Regions from separate parts of the Homo sapiens genome. Here region 2 is linked to region 1. Evidence: fine-mapped expression QTL. A gene starts in region 1. The other region holds a variant in brackets. All regions are shown on one strand. Distances are between the middles of the regions.

Region 1 (8,429 bases):
AAAAAGGAATGAAGTACTGATACCTGCTGATTTAGAGGACGAACCTCTAAAACATGCTAAGTGAAAGAAGCCAGACACAAAAGAACACATATTGAATTATTCAATTTTTAGGAAAATCCAGAATAGATAAATTTATGGGGGCAGAAAGCAGATCAGTGGTTGCCGAGGATTGGCAGGGAGAAGGGAATGAACAACTGCTTAATGAATATGGGGTTTCCTTTTGGGGTGATGAAAATGTTTTAGAAACGTGACGGTTCATAACATCATGAACGTGCTAAATGCCACACTTTAAAATGGAAAATCTGGCTAGGCATAGGGGCTCATGTCTGTAATCCCAGAGCTTTGGGAGGCTGAGGTCGAAGGATCACCTGAGGGCAGATTTGGCCAGCCTGTGCAAAATAGTAAGATCCCGTCTTTTAAGAAAAAAAATTATAAAATTAGTCGTGTGTGGTGGCACATGCCTGTAAACCTAGCTACTCCACAGGCTAAGGTGGAGTTCAAGGCTACAGTGAGTTATGATCACACCACTGCACTCCAGTCTGCAGAACAGTGGGGTACCCTGTCTTTGTAAATAATTTAAAAATAAAATGAAAAATTCTGTTACAGGAATTTAATTTAAAAAAGAAAATTGGAAGAAAAAACTCACTGAAGTTAGAAAAATCATGAATAGCGGATTTTCAAAATTAGATTAAAAATAAGGGAAATATAAGAATAGCTTCAATCAAATGGAGCAGGCCAATGAAGAAGAAAAAGAATATTAATGGGTACACTGGAAAGACTTAGGGGTATTACAACACTTAATTTCCTCCTCTGAGAGGAAGTCAGCCGATTGTGTCTCAAAGAATTGCATTAAAAGAAAGTACAAAACCTTTTAAAAGTTCAAAGATTTTGGGAAATTACCTGGTTCAGTCTACTCAATCAGATTAAAAAGGACTGCATGATATTAAGTAATTTAGTCAATGCCACTCTTGAAATAACTAAATACAGAATCAATGCTTCAAATCCTGATCATCTGATCCCAAGAACAGAGACGCTTCTGGACTAAATTCAAGACAAACTTTTGCTATTATACCAAGGTCGCACAAAAATCTATCTAGCTCAGCGCTAACATAAAAATCTTTTGCTATTTGGGTCTTGCACCTTTCAGCTTTAAGAAATGGGCATAAAAATAAAAATAAAAAAGATTCCCTGCTTTAGAGAAAATAAAGTAGCTTTGTGAGTGCCCAGGCTGTCTTATTCATAGTATCCATGATATCTACAATTACTGGTACATGGTAGGCACTCCAGTATTTTTAAGAGTATAAAAATTTTTGAAAAATGAATCGTTCAAAACCTAAAATATATGGTGGAAAATATATGAGTCTTCTGATACCCCCTCAGGGAACATTACTTTTTGCCATTCCATAGCCTCTTAGCCTTTTGGCTGTCTTTTCCAATTTCCTTTTCCTTTTTAATGTATCTTCATAAATTATGAAAGATTAGTTGACAATGCTTAAGGCAGCAATCCACATTAAAAATCTGTAATTGTAATAAAACATCCATTAAGTTTATTTTTAAAGTCACTTTAAGCCAGTAGTGTCTTATTTTTACTCCCTTTTGAAACAGAAGCCCCTTACAATGAGGATTTTGAGGAACCTGTCCTGTGTCCCTCTTACAAAGTTCCCATTGGTAATTCAGAGAGGTCCTCAGGTTGAGAACTGCTGGACTGAACTCCTTTTATTGGCTCCAACTCTTCTTATTTCTTCCTATGAAGAAATGCTAGTCTTTATTGAGTTGAGAAAACATTACAAGAATCTGTGAAACAAAGCTTCTAATACCTGTATAAAACTGAAAACCTTGTGACTTTATTGGTAAACAGCCAAGAAACACAAGAGACTACTAGTAGCCTCTAGAAAGAGGTACAGGTCGATGAAGTGACCAAAACCGGATGCTGATTTGCTGATTCTGCCAATTTCTTGTTAAATGGCTTTCAGTAAGTGATTAACTTTTATTTTCTAAATTCAATAGAGATCTGCTGGTACTCTGTAAGATACTGTATGACTAATAGTAACGGTTCCCAAGACTTAAGAAAACGTAACTGCAAATTGGCCACAAGTCCAAGGGGTCGGGGCCTCTGCTATCAGCATTGACCTTTACTCTCGGGAGTTCATATTTCCATCTGTAAAACTAGAAAAGATAAAGGGACTTATTCACTGAGCTGTTGTGAGAATAAATGAGCACACGAAACCATTTGGCAGTGCCTAGTACACAGTAAGCAATCTAATATTATTTATGTCATTGTATCCATATATATATGGATACATACATATATATGGATACATGGATACATACATATATACGGATACATACATATATATGGATACATACATACATATATATGGATACATACATATATATGGATACATACATATATATGGATACATACATATATATGGATACATACATACATATATATATATGGATACATACACCTGGCTAATTTTTTTATTTTTTAGTAGAGACGAGGTTTCACCATGTTGGCCAAAAAGAAACAAAGGAAAAGTCCTATCAATTAGATAGCAGTTCTATATTACAGGCAATAATATTTTTTCTTAAAAAAAAAAAAGGTAGAGGATGATGGAAACCGCTCCTCCCACAAGTAAAACAGCTGGAGCTCTCAATCTCAAATTGCCAATCCGTCACTCACATATTCAGATCTAGGGCCACTAATCATCATCCGTGGTCCCGAGCTGTGAGAGCAGTAGCAAACAAATAGGAAGAAAAAGAAGAGACACCAAACATCAAAGGGCTGGATAGCTTGTAAAAAACCAAAAGTACCTCTAGTATAGGCGACACTAAAACTTTACAAGTGAGTCAAAACGGCCCCCTATGGAGTTGGAATGCAACACCCAACTCCGTCCCCACCTCTCGGAGCTCTCAGCCTACACGCTGCAGGGGCGCGAGCCACAGCCAACCTGGGGAAGATGCGACCCAGGTGCCCGCCCCAGGCCGGGGCGCCGAGTGCCAGCGCCAGGTGCAGACGCCGCCCCGTCTCCGCGGAGCCCGGGGATGCCCACGCCGGGGCGGCGGCCGGGAACCCCGGCCAGCGGCTCTCCGGGACCCCAGTCCCGCCTGCGCCCTCTCCAACGTCCGGACACGCCGTGACAACGCGGCCGGGCCCGGGGCCCGCCCCCGGCCGGTGACCGCAGTGCGCGGAGGCTGAAGTCGTAGGTGGGCGTCTGGCTTCCCCGGCCTCCTCCATCCCTCCCCGAACCTGAGCCCCGGCTCCGTCCGCCTCCCAGCCGTCTCACCGGCCTCCCGCCCGCCTCTCCGCCGCGCGCGCCCGCCTTCCGGCCTCCCAGCGCTCAGTCCTGCCGGAGGCCGACGGGAGCCGCCGCCTCCAGCTCGCGCCTCCGCTTCCTCTCGGACTCCTCCGGCTGCCCCTCACCCCGGCAAGTGGCCAGGAGAAAGCCAGCTCGCCGCTGGGCCTCCTCCCACGCTTCCCGGCCGCGACCAATGGGCCCCCGCCGCCGGGAAGCCGCGCCCGCCCCCTGGCGGTGGAGGACCAAGCGGGCGCCCGGGCCGGCCAGAGGGAAGGGCCGGAGAGCGGAGGGAGGGGTCTGCGGTCCCGCCCACCGCCCCCGGCCAGGCGCTGCACAATCTGAACTTGCCACGTGGGAGCTGCCGCCGCCGCAGCGGCCCTGCGCCGGGTGGCACTACGGGAGGGAGAAAAATGTGTCACCGCCGTCTCCCCACCGTTTACACGCACAAAATCCCAGCCTCAAGGGCAGAACATTTTAAATGACCCACCCATCCTAGAGATGCGCCAGTTAGGTCATCTTATATATCTTGAGATAGCTGAGATGGTCAGATCAACCAAGGACCTTGGGTTATTTGCCGTTTGACTTCTTGAACCCTAGGAAACTGATTCTGAAAATCCTACTGTCCAGCGTCATTAGAATTCTGATCACCTTTAATGCACCACCCAAGAAGAACAGTAGTCCTTGCATTTTCCAAGTCACGTTTATTTTTTAAATTATAAGATACACAATCGTTAGAAATATTTTTTCTCAGGAGATTTCCTACAATTGTGTTGATAATTGGGAAGTTAATCCAAATCTTACTACATAAGACCTTAGAATGCAAAATTATTTCATAATTCAGATCCATATTCTAAAATAATGAATAACTGTTACCTAGTATTTGACAGAATATTGGGATCATCAGTGGTTGCAGAAATTAAATTGCATTTAAAAATAGGGTTTGACTATAGTGTGTTAATATAGAATTAATAATCTACCAAATTTTAGCTTTCCTCCAAAAATATAAAACACACAAACTAATAGTAACTATGAATTCTGGAGTTTGTGATCCGTGATCAGGGGAGAAAGCATGAAATGAATTCTCATTGTCTTCCATGTGCCAATATTATGCTATTTGTGTATTACTTAAATCAAAAAACTAAGACTCCAAAACTGAGTTTAAATATCTTGCTCAAAAATACAAGATAGTAAGTTATGAAGCTGGAATTCCGGCCTAGCTTCATGTAGCTCCAAATAAACAAAAAGGCACTTTGCTTATTATAGTACCAAAAAATCATAACACTTACTGTACACATGCCTCTCCTAGACTGCTATGTCTCACTGAAAGAGTTTATGAAGCCTCTTGAGTAGGGAGGTCACGGTGTATTTCTGAAAGAGCAATCTGCTCTGTAACCGAGCCAACCAGATTGGAAATTACATGTGACATATTCTTATAGCACCACACCTGAAACAATTCCTGTGCATAAAGTTTAATGTGTTAGTAGCCTATTCTCCACTGACCATAAGATATAGCTTAGAACCCTTTGGTAGGTAATGAAATTAATAACAATGGGTCACAACCAACATTTTGTTGCTGTTGATTCACTGAAAAATAGAAAAAAAAAACAGTTCAAAGCATAAATTCAGGATAAGTATTCTTCATGAAACATTTGTACAGCATCATGTGTGGGTGAGTGTCTGTGTGTCTATGTCCTGGATACAGTAGAAATTATATTTCTTAATATGGGTTTCAATTTTTTTAACATTGGTAAATCACTTCTTTAGGACTCCTGTTAATCAGCCAGTTCTTACACCTATAAACGAGTAAGGATAACTTCCTACTTTTACTTGGCAGGAGGTAGGGGAGCCAGGAGAAGTATTCAGGATTAATGATTAAGCTTAATAAAACCACAGAGCTTTACAGCTCCAGGAGGTATAAGCCAAAGGTGTTGGCTATTACAATAACTACCGATAATTTATATTATATAATAATAGCTACTGATAATGTATATTTCTAAAGCTGATATTTATTGTGTGCTTATTGTGCACCAGGCACTTTTCTAAGCACTTTATATATATAGACTTATTTAATTCTCACAATAATCCTATAAATACAGCGGAGAAAAGTGAAACTTGCTCAAGGTCCTTCTGCTATGACCAGACAGAGCTAAGATTCAAACTCACGTGCTCAACTTCAAAGCCCAACTTTTTTGTTGACTCGAAAAGAATATACAGAGAGTGTGACATCCAGCTTCTGAGTGTCATCCTTCATAGCACAAGCAACAAAAGAGAGGATTAAATATGGATGATGTTGAGAAAGGCAAGAAGATTTGTATTCAGAAGTGTGCCCAGTGCCACACTGTGGAAAAGGCAGGCAAGCACAGGACTGGGCCTAATCTCCATGGTCTCTTCGGATGGAAGACAGGTCAAGCCGTTGGATTATTTTACACAGATGCCATTAAGAACAAAGGCATCACCTGGGGAGAGGATACACTGATGGAGTATTTGGAGAATCCCAAGAAGCACATCTCTGGAACAAAGTGATCTTTGCCAGCATTAAGAAGAAGGCAGAAAGAGCAGACTTGATAGCTTATCTCAAAAAAGCTACTAATGAATAATAATTGGCCACTGCCTTATTTATTACAAAACAGAAATGTCTTATGACTTTTTTATGTGTACCATAATTTAATAGACCTCACACACCAGAATTCAGATCATGAATAACTGACAGAATATTTTGTTGGGCAGTCCTGATGTAAAACTAAGACTGGCTTGCAGTTAAATGAATATGTTCAGTTTTTTTGAATTTTAATAGTAATCCAATTCAGTAAATGCTATCACTGTTTACCCTTTCTAAAGACATGATTTGATTAGACTTTGTTAGTAATGTTCAGCTTTTCACAAAGATGGTGAATGCCATCTTAAAACATATTGGAGATTGGTTTTATATTTGGATTTATATAACTGGTTATGTGAATATATTTAAATACTGGAGAAATTCCTTCACTATCTCAGAACCAAGCAAGATTCACCTGTGTTTTGTGTTCATTTGCCTCTTAAAGGCAAGGGTTGAAGATAAGGTAGCAATGTCTACTTTATATTTTTGGCCTTAACTATGTCAATCTAATTAGAATTCCCTGTATTTAAAATAGTTCCTTTTACTTATTGAAAGGCATTTTAGTGTGGTGTATGTGTAATATCAAATAAAGATTATTTAACACTTCTCACATTTTATAGATGATCTGTAAGATAATATGCTTTTAAAATAGTAGCAAGTTAAACTTCACTCTTGAATTATTTACAATCTAAGTCAAACTAAGTTATAATTTAGGATTGTCTTTAAACAGCCATTCAGAGGCTGGGCGTGGTAGATCATGAGGTCAGGAGATTGAGACCATCCTGGCTAACACGGTGAAACTCGTCTCTACTAAAAATACAAAAAATTAGCCGGGCGTAGTGGCGGGCACCTGTAGTCCCAGCTACTGGGGAGGCTGAGGCAGGAGAATGACGTGAACCCGGGAGGCAGAGCTTGCAGTGAGCTGAGATCGCACCACTGCACTCCAGCCTGGGCCACAGAGTGAGACTCTGTCTCAAAAAAAAAAAAAAAAAAGCCATTCAGAAACAGAAAATCGTAGAACTGCTGTGTATTTGTGATTGGGAATGGTGCTTTTGCCAACTTAAAATGATTAAAGTAGAGGAGATATACACAAATTTTAAAATTATATGTGATCATAAGGCTTAAAAACAAAACCACAAATCATGATTAAAAGAAAGGAATGTTCATTCTCTCAATAGGTGCCATATTTTATATAAAACTATAACCTGCTTTATATTACTGTAACTATATAAGAATATATAAAAAATGTATATATAAGAATTAGATAATATTGTTAAATACAAAATTTCCAAAAAGCCTCAGAATTTTAATTGCACCCACCCTCAAGAAGAAGAGTCCACTTGGTATCATTTTTCTGTATATGGAGTAGTAAATTATAGGCAAATATGGCTACCAACAATTCCCCCATTCCTGTAAGTTCATGCCACTTTGTTTTTTACCATCAAGAGGTCAATCTATGTCCTCTTCTCTTGAACCTAGGCTGGCCCCGGGACTTATTCTGACCCATAGAATGCATGGAGGAGATCTTATGTGACTTATGGGCTTAGACCCTAAGAGACCTTGCAGCTTCCATTTTCACTAGCTTCAGGATCTAGTCACCATATAGGAAACTCAGACAACTACTGAATAATGAGAAACTACATGCAGAGAGAGGCCTAGCTCTCTCTCTCCATCCACACCATCCCAACCACTTCCCCAAGGCACCAGCTATATGAGTAAAGTCGTGTTGCATGTTCTAGCTCCAGCTAAGCTCCTACCTGAGTATATCACATGAGTAACTCCAGACAGTACCACATGGAGCATAACTGCCCAGCTTAGACCAACAAACCCACAGAAACTTGAGAAATAACATACTTAAAAAAATTTACTAAGTATTGTGGTAGTTTGTTACACAGCAATAAATAACTGAATCAGGGAAGAAAACATTTGTAGGGGGAAAAGAGTTGACCAACTCTGGGGGTAGGATTACTTTAAAATATTCAAGCATGTTTATATTGGATTATAAACTCAAACCTGTGGCAAGATGGCCAGAAACTTGCCTAGCTTCTAAAGAATATAGCAGAAGAGAGAGAAAAAGAGAGGTAAAATAATAAAACTGAAAGTAAACGTGTCAAATTTTATACCTATACAGGTTAAAATACCACATCTAAGTGTCATTTGAAAATTATTATTCAGAGTTTTTATAAAAATGTGAATTTAAAACCCTTAAACTTCATCCTTGCCTGTAAGGGCAAAATAGTACAGTTCAAAAAGCTGGAGTGCGCACAGATTTCATGGCACTGTATTTGATACATTAGCAACACAGCCTATAAAATGTGGTTTAATTTACTATGAAACATGGAGGATACAGTAGAATGGCATTACAGCAAATGTATCTTTGCACAAAAAAGACTCTAAGTTTTTAATCTATTACTTTTCTAGTAACATACAAGAAAATTCTAGATACCATAAAAATTTGAATTTTTAAATGAATTGAATAAAAAATAAATATTCAAATAAATTTGACTTTTGATTTCACTGCATAGGGGATT
Region 2 (8,272 bases), 50 kb before region 1:
ATATGCCTTAGTTCTAGTGAGCTGTTTAGGAAACAGCTTTTGATATTACATGGAGCTCACAACAGACAAAGCAAGCCCTAAGCACTGTGGATTATGAATGTGGGTTCAAAGTGCTTTGATTTGTTTAAATACCTTGCATAATGTTAAAGGGCGAAGGGAGGTGCTCCAGTGGATTATTTTTCAATTTAGGAGTTCAAATTCTTTGTAAATTTGGAACTGCCTAATAAAGGCAATGGTAAGAGGCAATGATTCATCCTGAAACAAAGTCAAGAAAAACATATTAAATGATATTATCTGTAACATCTGGATTAGGAAGTTGAATAATTAAGGCATTTTCCTGATAATGGTACTTTACACAACATTAACAACATGTTAATTCTTTTTAGTATAAACAACTGCATTATTTCTTTATTCACAATTCGGATGATAGTCATTTTGTTTTCTATTTTAAGAGACTATGATAATTATATTAAAAATAACAACAAAATTTTAATTTTACACATTAGATGCTGTGACCTTATGTTTTGGCAGCTTTAAAACTATGTGATATGCACAGTAAGTATTTTAAAACACATTTTAATTTTCTCCAGGACTGTTAGTACTAATATGATATTTGTACTTAGTTTAAATATTTGTACTAAGTTTATTTGTACTAAGTTTAAATACGTAGTAGAAACAGAAAAGCGTCTCATCAAAATACTTATTTCTAGGCAATTTAGTGAGTTGCTCATCCTTTTTGCATCACCTCCCAAAGGTCATCAAAGATTGAGAAATTCGACTCACTATTTAGAGGCAGGAAGTGATCTGGAACACTGATTACCTTAGGTGATTTGAGGGAAGAAAAATTTGAATCCTATCTTCAGAAACCTCAAATACTCCTCAAGACAAGCCTTTCTTAAAGAAAGTTGGCTAAGATGTCTCCTTTTTGAAATTAATTTAAATTTTACTATAGACCAGATGTGATAAATCATGACATTTCTTGGGGGCAAGATGATGACACGTGGCACAGCATGACAAGGGACACAGTGATACACAAGGAAAGGACTAATTTACTTTGAAAGAATAAATAATATTAGCAAATACCTCCATAGCACTTAGTATATACCCGTATTAGTCTAAGTAAAAAATATATAGAGAGATACATATAAAAATTCAATCTTCACAACAACCTCGTAAAGTAGGTACATTATTGTAGTTTTCGTTTTACAGCTGAGGAAACTGAGACACACAGTAAGTTCCCAGCCCAAGGTCACACAGAAGGAACTGGCTTCAATGTCTGTGCCCTTAACTACCACATTGTTATTGTGCTTCTCACAGTATCAGAATTGTCAGACTGTGTTTACAAACATATGCCATTTAAAGAATTTAGGGGATTTGTGAATGTAATGAAAGTTACAGGATGTTCTTCATGGTTTGGTTATATAAACTTGGTTGAAAAGTAGGGAGCGAAGTGATGGGAGAGCTGAGATCTTAGAATTTACTATGAAATAAAATTAAAATACACTGCCTCTTGATTACTAAGCCCAAAGTGACTTACGCTGACTTCTATTTTAGATTGCAATGTGGCTTACAGTTGGATTGTGCAAGAATCTAATAACCATTCCAAAAGAAAATAACTAGGGGTAAAGATCAAACTAATTTAGTGTGACATAAAATAAATACTTACATCCTTTTTATTGTTGTGCTTACAGCCAAATGTTACATAAGGTGTTATTTTTAACAGATGGATTAAAATTTACTATTTGTAATGGTTTACACTCATATCCAAAGGAAAACCACTAGAGGTGGTTTGCACCAGATTAAAACTTTTTGAAACAAAATCATACTAGCAAAAGCAGCCTCTCCCATGTGGTTGTAAAGTAATAAAGGAGAATCAAGTCAACACAAACTAAAGTTTCATGTGTGACTTTATAATTTGCAGAGTAAGTAAAAGCATCTGATTCATGTGAATTGGAAAGGCAGAAAGGGCGGTGGCTGAGGGCTGCCTTTGTCCCTATCAGATGGCCATTCAGAACCATCAGGGTAGCTCTACTGCAGAGGCCAAGCCTTTCCTTCCACATTTTAGTAACCACCTGACACCCATGATCATGGCCCACACATTTACTTGGCCCTGTTTAGCCAAGAAGAAAGGGCAGATCCTTGGTGCCCCTACTCACTCTTTGGTGAGAGAAATATCACCAAATATACCAGTACATTTAAATACACCTCGAATTCTCTGGAAACCAACGAAAGGTGTAGATACACAAAATGGAAATCAATAACTACCTATGTATTGCCAGTACATAATCCTTACTTTCTCTTAGTCCTATCCACTGTCATTGTTTTATCTCAAATTCCCTGGCAAACAAGGCTCTATGCAAGGCAAGAAATAACACAGGACACAATAGCAAAATGGGAAAGCTGAAGAAGTGAATGGGATAAATCCTCTCTAACATGTCCCCTACTTAATGGGTACAGGAACTTTGCAAACTGAAAGATAAATTTCAATTCTCAGTGTGAGAAATTATTTCCTTCACCGGCTTAAAGTTGTTTTGCTTTCCCCAAATGCCCAATTCATCATTTTTTGAGAAACTATACTTTAAAATACAAGAATGATTTCAAAATTTCACTTGCCACAATTCCTGTAACTGTGCCCATATCCAACACATCCAGTGCTTTAAAACCACAGGGAACCTAATCCAGACTATTTCCATAATATAATTTTAACACCCTTTTGTAAGGTCTTAACAGTTCCACAAGAATTAGCTGTCAATATCATTTTTGGTCAAACGTTTCAGATTTCCATAGAGGTCTAGGAATGAGCTCACTTACCTTAAACCTTAAGTCCTTTCCCTAAGGGAGAACAGGAAGCCATTTGGGGCAGGCTGCACTCCCCAGGTAAGAAGGAGGCAGGACATAAGGCCCAGTTCTTGCTCATTCCTTACACCTAAGGAAATCTTCACCAATTGACTCTCCCACTTCTACCCACTGAAAACCACAACTCTCAGGGAATACTGCCTTCTCCACTAACCCAACATATTTCTAACCATAGCCCAACCATCATTTGCTTTTAAATCTCTCCTCTTCTCAGAGGTTGGACTCACAATGCATACTCCTTGGGATTCCTTTCTGTTCTTGCCAAATAGAGCACATAATACTTCTGTAACCAGCCTTCCAAAAAACAGAGCATACACAAGCTAAGTAGCTTTTGGAGTTGAAATTTAAAATAATTTAAGAGATTTCCATGTTAATACCAACATCTGTAAATAATAAAAAAATGCAAAATTCATGTGAAGTTTTACAATCAGAGAACTTCACAGGCTCACACTGGACTTTTCGCTAAAAGACAAGATTCCCAAGGGTGACCATTAGTCTCCTCTGCTTTGAGGGATATACTTATGGAAAACAGAGCAATTCTTTTCAACAGGTAGATGTCCAAATCGGCCATCTTATTCCACTGGTGATACAGGAGGCTACAATTTGGTGGGGAAGTCACTGGCCTCACTGTTGAGTTTGTTCTGTGTCAGAGAGGGCCAGCTGAGCCCCAGCATCTTCCCCACCATGATCAGTATGCCACCCTGCCCCGCAGCAGGAATTGG[A/G]GTGGTGAGGTTATTAGGAGCAGGGATCAAGGCCTGCACTCTCCAGTGAGGCTCATCAACCACCTCCTGCCACAGGAAGAGGTCAGCAAGGGCTCCCAGCCTCTTTGGCTTAAGTCACATACTTTCCCCTAAAGGCCAGACCAGCAATCAAGTAGAACCACTTAAAATGCTAGCTACCTGAAGATACACCAAAATACATAAATTAACCACTTAAAATGGTAGCTACTTGGAGATACATAAAAGCCTGAATTCTACCTATGAAGGGGAGTTGGTGTCAATGTGTAATAAGTGAAAAGGTAGGCAGAATATGAAAGAGGTTTGGAGGTCAAGGAGAACCTCAGGTGAAGAAATGAATGAAACCTCTCCCATGATCTTACTGCTCAAGTCATCTAATGGCTCCCTTCTGGCTGGGTATGATGGGATTGGAAAGCTAGAGAGGCTGACTTGTTGCAGCTTCTCTTGGGCTAAAATGCCTGTAAGACACACGGTTGATAACAGCAATACTAGCAGTTGCACTGAATGAGTACTTTGTGCCAGGCACTTTGATAGGCACCACAAACATGCTGGTATTATCCCTGTTTTACAGGTGGACATTGACTTCCTCAAAGTCCTCAAGTAGTTCACAGTGGAACAGAGATGAATTTTCAGGCAAGTCTGCACTCTTAACCACTATGCCACACTGTCTCCCCACTACAGAATTCTCTCCTCTTTAAAGGTTTTTCAGACCCTTTTCTCTTTGGCTATCAAGTGAAGGAAATATGGGCTGACTATACGGAACATTACGAGCTTGCAGGTTATAAGTCAATTTTCCCTGACCAAAGGGAGTATCTTTTATCAATTTAGCCTCAGCTTGTTCTTTCAATATTAAATGCACCCCAGTGGTTGTCATAACTGATGCAGAGCTGAACAGTGAAGTTAGTGATGGCAACAAGTTGTACCTGTGAACTAGTTGTACTGAGAAGATTGTCTTCCCCATGCTAACTTTGCTTACAAATTGCCATGGGACAAGCCCAAGAGAAACATCTCTTCTGTCTTTAACCTGAGAACTTCCCAGTCCCTTTTCCTTTCTGACCGCTCATAGAAGAGACATCTAACTATTTGAAGTGTTTCCCCAGTATAGCTTCCCTCAAGGTGTTTGCCCCCTCACTGGCCTGGAGGAAGGTTCTGATGGCAGAAGAGTCTCTTAGATTCCCTGGAGGGCTTTTCCCATGCTGCCTGAAACATCCTTTGATGCTCTCTTCATGCTGTCTAGCAACAAATGAATGACATTCCCTCGCGAAGCCTGCTTACTTTTCACTCCATCTAGCCTTTGATTTGCCTGGAAACTCAAAAAAAAAAAAAAAAAATCACAATAAGGAGCAAGCAGAGAAAAAAGGCTTAAATTGAGCGAGTTTGGATGGAAATAGAAATTAACTAGTTACAGCATGTGATAATCAAAAATCAAGTATGTGGTAGAAAAATCATTCTGAAAAGAGACAGAAAATCCTTTTGAGGAATGCAAAGGTGCAATCTGTTATTTTATTCTATAGCTCTAAATTTACATGGATTTATTGCTGTACAAGAGGTTGAAATAATTGAAGAGGTTTAAGTGACAAATCTCCCTAATCAACACAAGTAATTTATCTCTCTCATATTCCTTTGAAACAAAGTATTCTAAATGAATTTCCACTTTTAATTGCTCTACTAACTGAACATGGCACATTTTGCATTCAATTAAGGGAGAGTTTGTTGACCAAACTGAATGAAATTATAACTTTTTTGGTCAAGTTATTTAAAATTTATGTAAATTTTTAAAGTATAAAGTGCAACAGGCTAAATGAACTCAGCTTTGATCTGTCATAAAATTATAACATAGCTGATTCACTTAAAAACAAGTCCAATATAGAAAGAACAATGATAAATTTCCCATTAATCCAATTAAATTCAGGAATATAAAGACTCTGGTTCAATCTTCCTTTAATTTCCCAAATACCACTTATTTTCCTGCTTTCTCTTGTTCAATTTTAACATTCACATTACAATACACTTATTCTGGGACAGCATCGGATTACAAATAAAAAATATGCATCGATAAGCCCATAAGCACCATTTCAAATACTATGTCAATGTTAATTTGATTTTAATAAAGAACATTCTTAATATTAAATGAGCACTGTTTCATGTCTAAAACCGATTTTAAAGAGGTATCTGAAAATGTAGTATAAAGTTATTGCTTTCAAAGTTAAGTTGGCACAATCTATACAAGATTGAACTGAGACAAAAGGAAACCACACCAGTTAACATAACCAATCTTTGTCTTCTTTTAACATTTTATATATCTGGAAAAGCTATCCTTTTACAGTCTTAATAAAAGGGCTTTTTCCGCCATCTAGATACTTAGCTTCTTACATGTTAAGACACATCTAGGATATTACTATTTTTAACCACAGCAACAATTTTTTTTCCAAGTTAGGCAGTATAATAAATGCTTGAAAAACCTTGTGTGAGTTTTTGTGAAGTTCTGTAGGTATATTACTTTGCCAGATAATACAAAAAAAAAAAAAAATTCACAAAGCAAAACCAAGAGTATTTATTTTCATTATTTTAAAAAACTGCAACATTTATTTCACAATCCCTGGAACTGTAAAATAACTATTCTTTTAATTTACAGAATTGAGGGAAGTATTTTAAATGTCAAAATACACATGCTGAATGTGATTTAGCATATAAGCACCAAAAATCCCAAAAGTATACAAAGATTGTTTAAACATATAAGGTGCATTTATTCATGAATTAATTACATTCAGTTTGAAGGAAGAAACAGTACTCCAAAGTTCATCAATATTTAAGAAATTATCCGAATAGCTTCCAACTTGGTTTACAGCTAAATAACAGATACTGCTTTTAGGTTTTTTTATACAATGCATCTAAACTTTAGGTTCGAAATTTAAGTGCTGCCTTACACTGTGAATGGCAGTTTGATCACTAAATTTATGTTCCAGTTTGAGATACTTCATACACAACATATATTTAATGCCCTGAAAACTTCTGCTTAAAAACTGAGTTATTTAGTGAACATCTGAAGGTAACAAAAAAAGATAGATCTTCTATATTTTTATGTAGAATTGGGTATAAAGTCATTTGGGGTCAAACACAATTATTTTTTAAATGTTATCAGTCCGCCCAGTAATAAGAACTTTTGTAAATATGCCACTATAGCTTCGGGCAATAATTGCTATTATGAAGTTAGATAAACACAGGATTAATTTCTTGGTTTACAAATCAAAATTATTGTGATATTAAAGCATGCCTCCTTCCAAACCACTTGGTCAATGCTGATAACAATTAAGAAAAACGTATGCTAGTATTGCTCTAAATATACTGACTTAGCTGTCCTGAATGACCTAATTAGGTTGGGGAGGGGACTTGGCCTGGTTCTCCAGTTCTGTGAAGCTGCCACCTCCAGCCTCACTCTAAATAGCTTATACAAAATCAAGTTATTCCCATAGCTAACACAAATCCAGCAAGCTGTGGTCCTAAATGCCATCTACATTTATATATTTACTTTTTTACTGTGTACATTAAGAATTTTGTTGTGCTTTTCACATATCCGATGTATGTTTTCATATTAAACATTCCTCAGTTTCTTGGGAAGGAAAGAAAAAGATCATGAAAAGAGGTACATCAGGAGAGTCGGACTGTAAAGTAACATTACACACACAACTAGCCAAATCTCTTTTTAATTTAAAAGATAATGTCATCACAACGCAACATATAGAAACATAAAAGAAAATAAAGTATCCACCCTAAAATCCCTATTATTCCATGATATTTTCATAGCAACTAGTATATATATCAATATATTTTTCACAAACCATTCAGTTACACATTGTGTATGCTTTTAGAATTTAAAATATGTATTACCATAGCAGTCTAAACATTGTACTTTTAGGGAAATGTGCGGAGACATGGTTCAGTGATTTGATCATTGTGATGATTATTTACAATGCTATCTATTTACGTTAGCAATAAATAATCCTGATATCAAAAGAGACAATACTCATGCACACACCAAGATGGCTGCATGCTCTTAAAATATTTACACATAGCTCTGCCATTTATAGCTCTCCCATTAAGAGTGAAAGTGCGCTTTCTTCAATTCTCTCCACATTTCCATTAGTCTTGCTTCTGGGGGATGCATCCTTCCATTTCTACAACTTCAGGCCATCCTTCATATTTGTTTGTATCCTTATTGTTCTTTATGTGCTATTGGAACACAGTAATAATATACAGTTTAAAAAACCGTTGTAAACTGCTGATTTGCCGTAACATTTTACACACTTCTCATTTCAGTAATACTCATGTCAACAATAAGTTCATTTAAATTACTGGTCAAGATATTAAATGAGTGACCCTCAGGCTGTATCACATACATGGCAGACCTTCAAATAACAGCTGAAAGAATACATTGCACGTGCTTTTAAAGGATTATTTGCTACTCAAAAACTAACATTTACATTCTACTAAGTTCTAAAATATTTCCAAACTTCACTGATTCTAAAATCCAAAGCTCAATTAAAATCCTTAATAACTAAAGCTTCCGAAAAGGCTTAAGATAGGTAATCCTATTCCAATGCATTGTCCTGTAGGAAAAAATATTCCCATGCAGAATTTTCAAGTTTTGAAATTTAAAAGTACGATAGTTATTTCAAATA

What was found. PIP is the estimated chance that this variant, and not a neighbour inherited with it, causes the effect.
Region 2: its variant is fine-mapped to the expression of FAM3C in sun-exposed skin (GTEx, PIP above 0.99). The same link has a PIP of 0.9 or more in fibroblasts, lung, prefrontal cortex and whole blood.

What each region holds. Positions count from the first base shown.
Region 1 is chr7:121,392,872-121,401,300 of GRCh38, forward strand. It overlaps FAM3C (FAM3 metabolism regulating signaling molecule C), which reads right to left and starts at 3,437. Exons shown (of 10, transcript NM_014888.3): 1 at 3,291-3,437. It also overlaps the pseudogene CYCSP19. RefSeq lists enhancers at 2,474-3,059, 3,060-3,644 and silencers at 2,872-3,701, 3,742-3,801.
Region 2 is chr7:121,342,728-121,350,999 of GRCh38, forward strand. FAM3C (FAM3 metabolism regulating signaling molecule C) reads right to left here. Exons shown (of 10, transcript NM_014888.3): 10 at 6,151-7,823. The coding sequence ends at 7,734. Among named protein-coding and RNA genes, the nearest start is that of WNT16, 18 kb to the left of the region's middle. The variant A/G (reference allele first, on the strand shown) is at 3,579.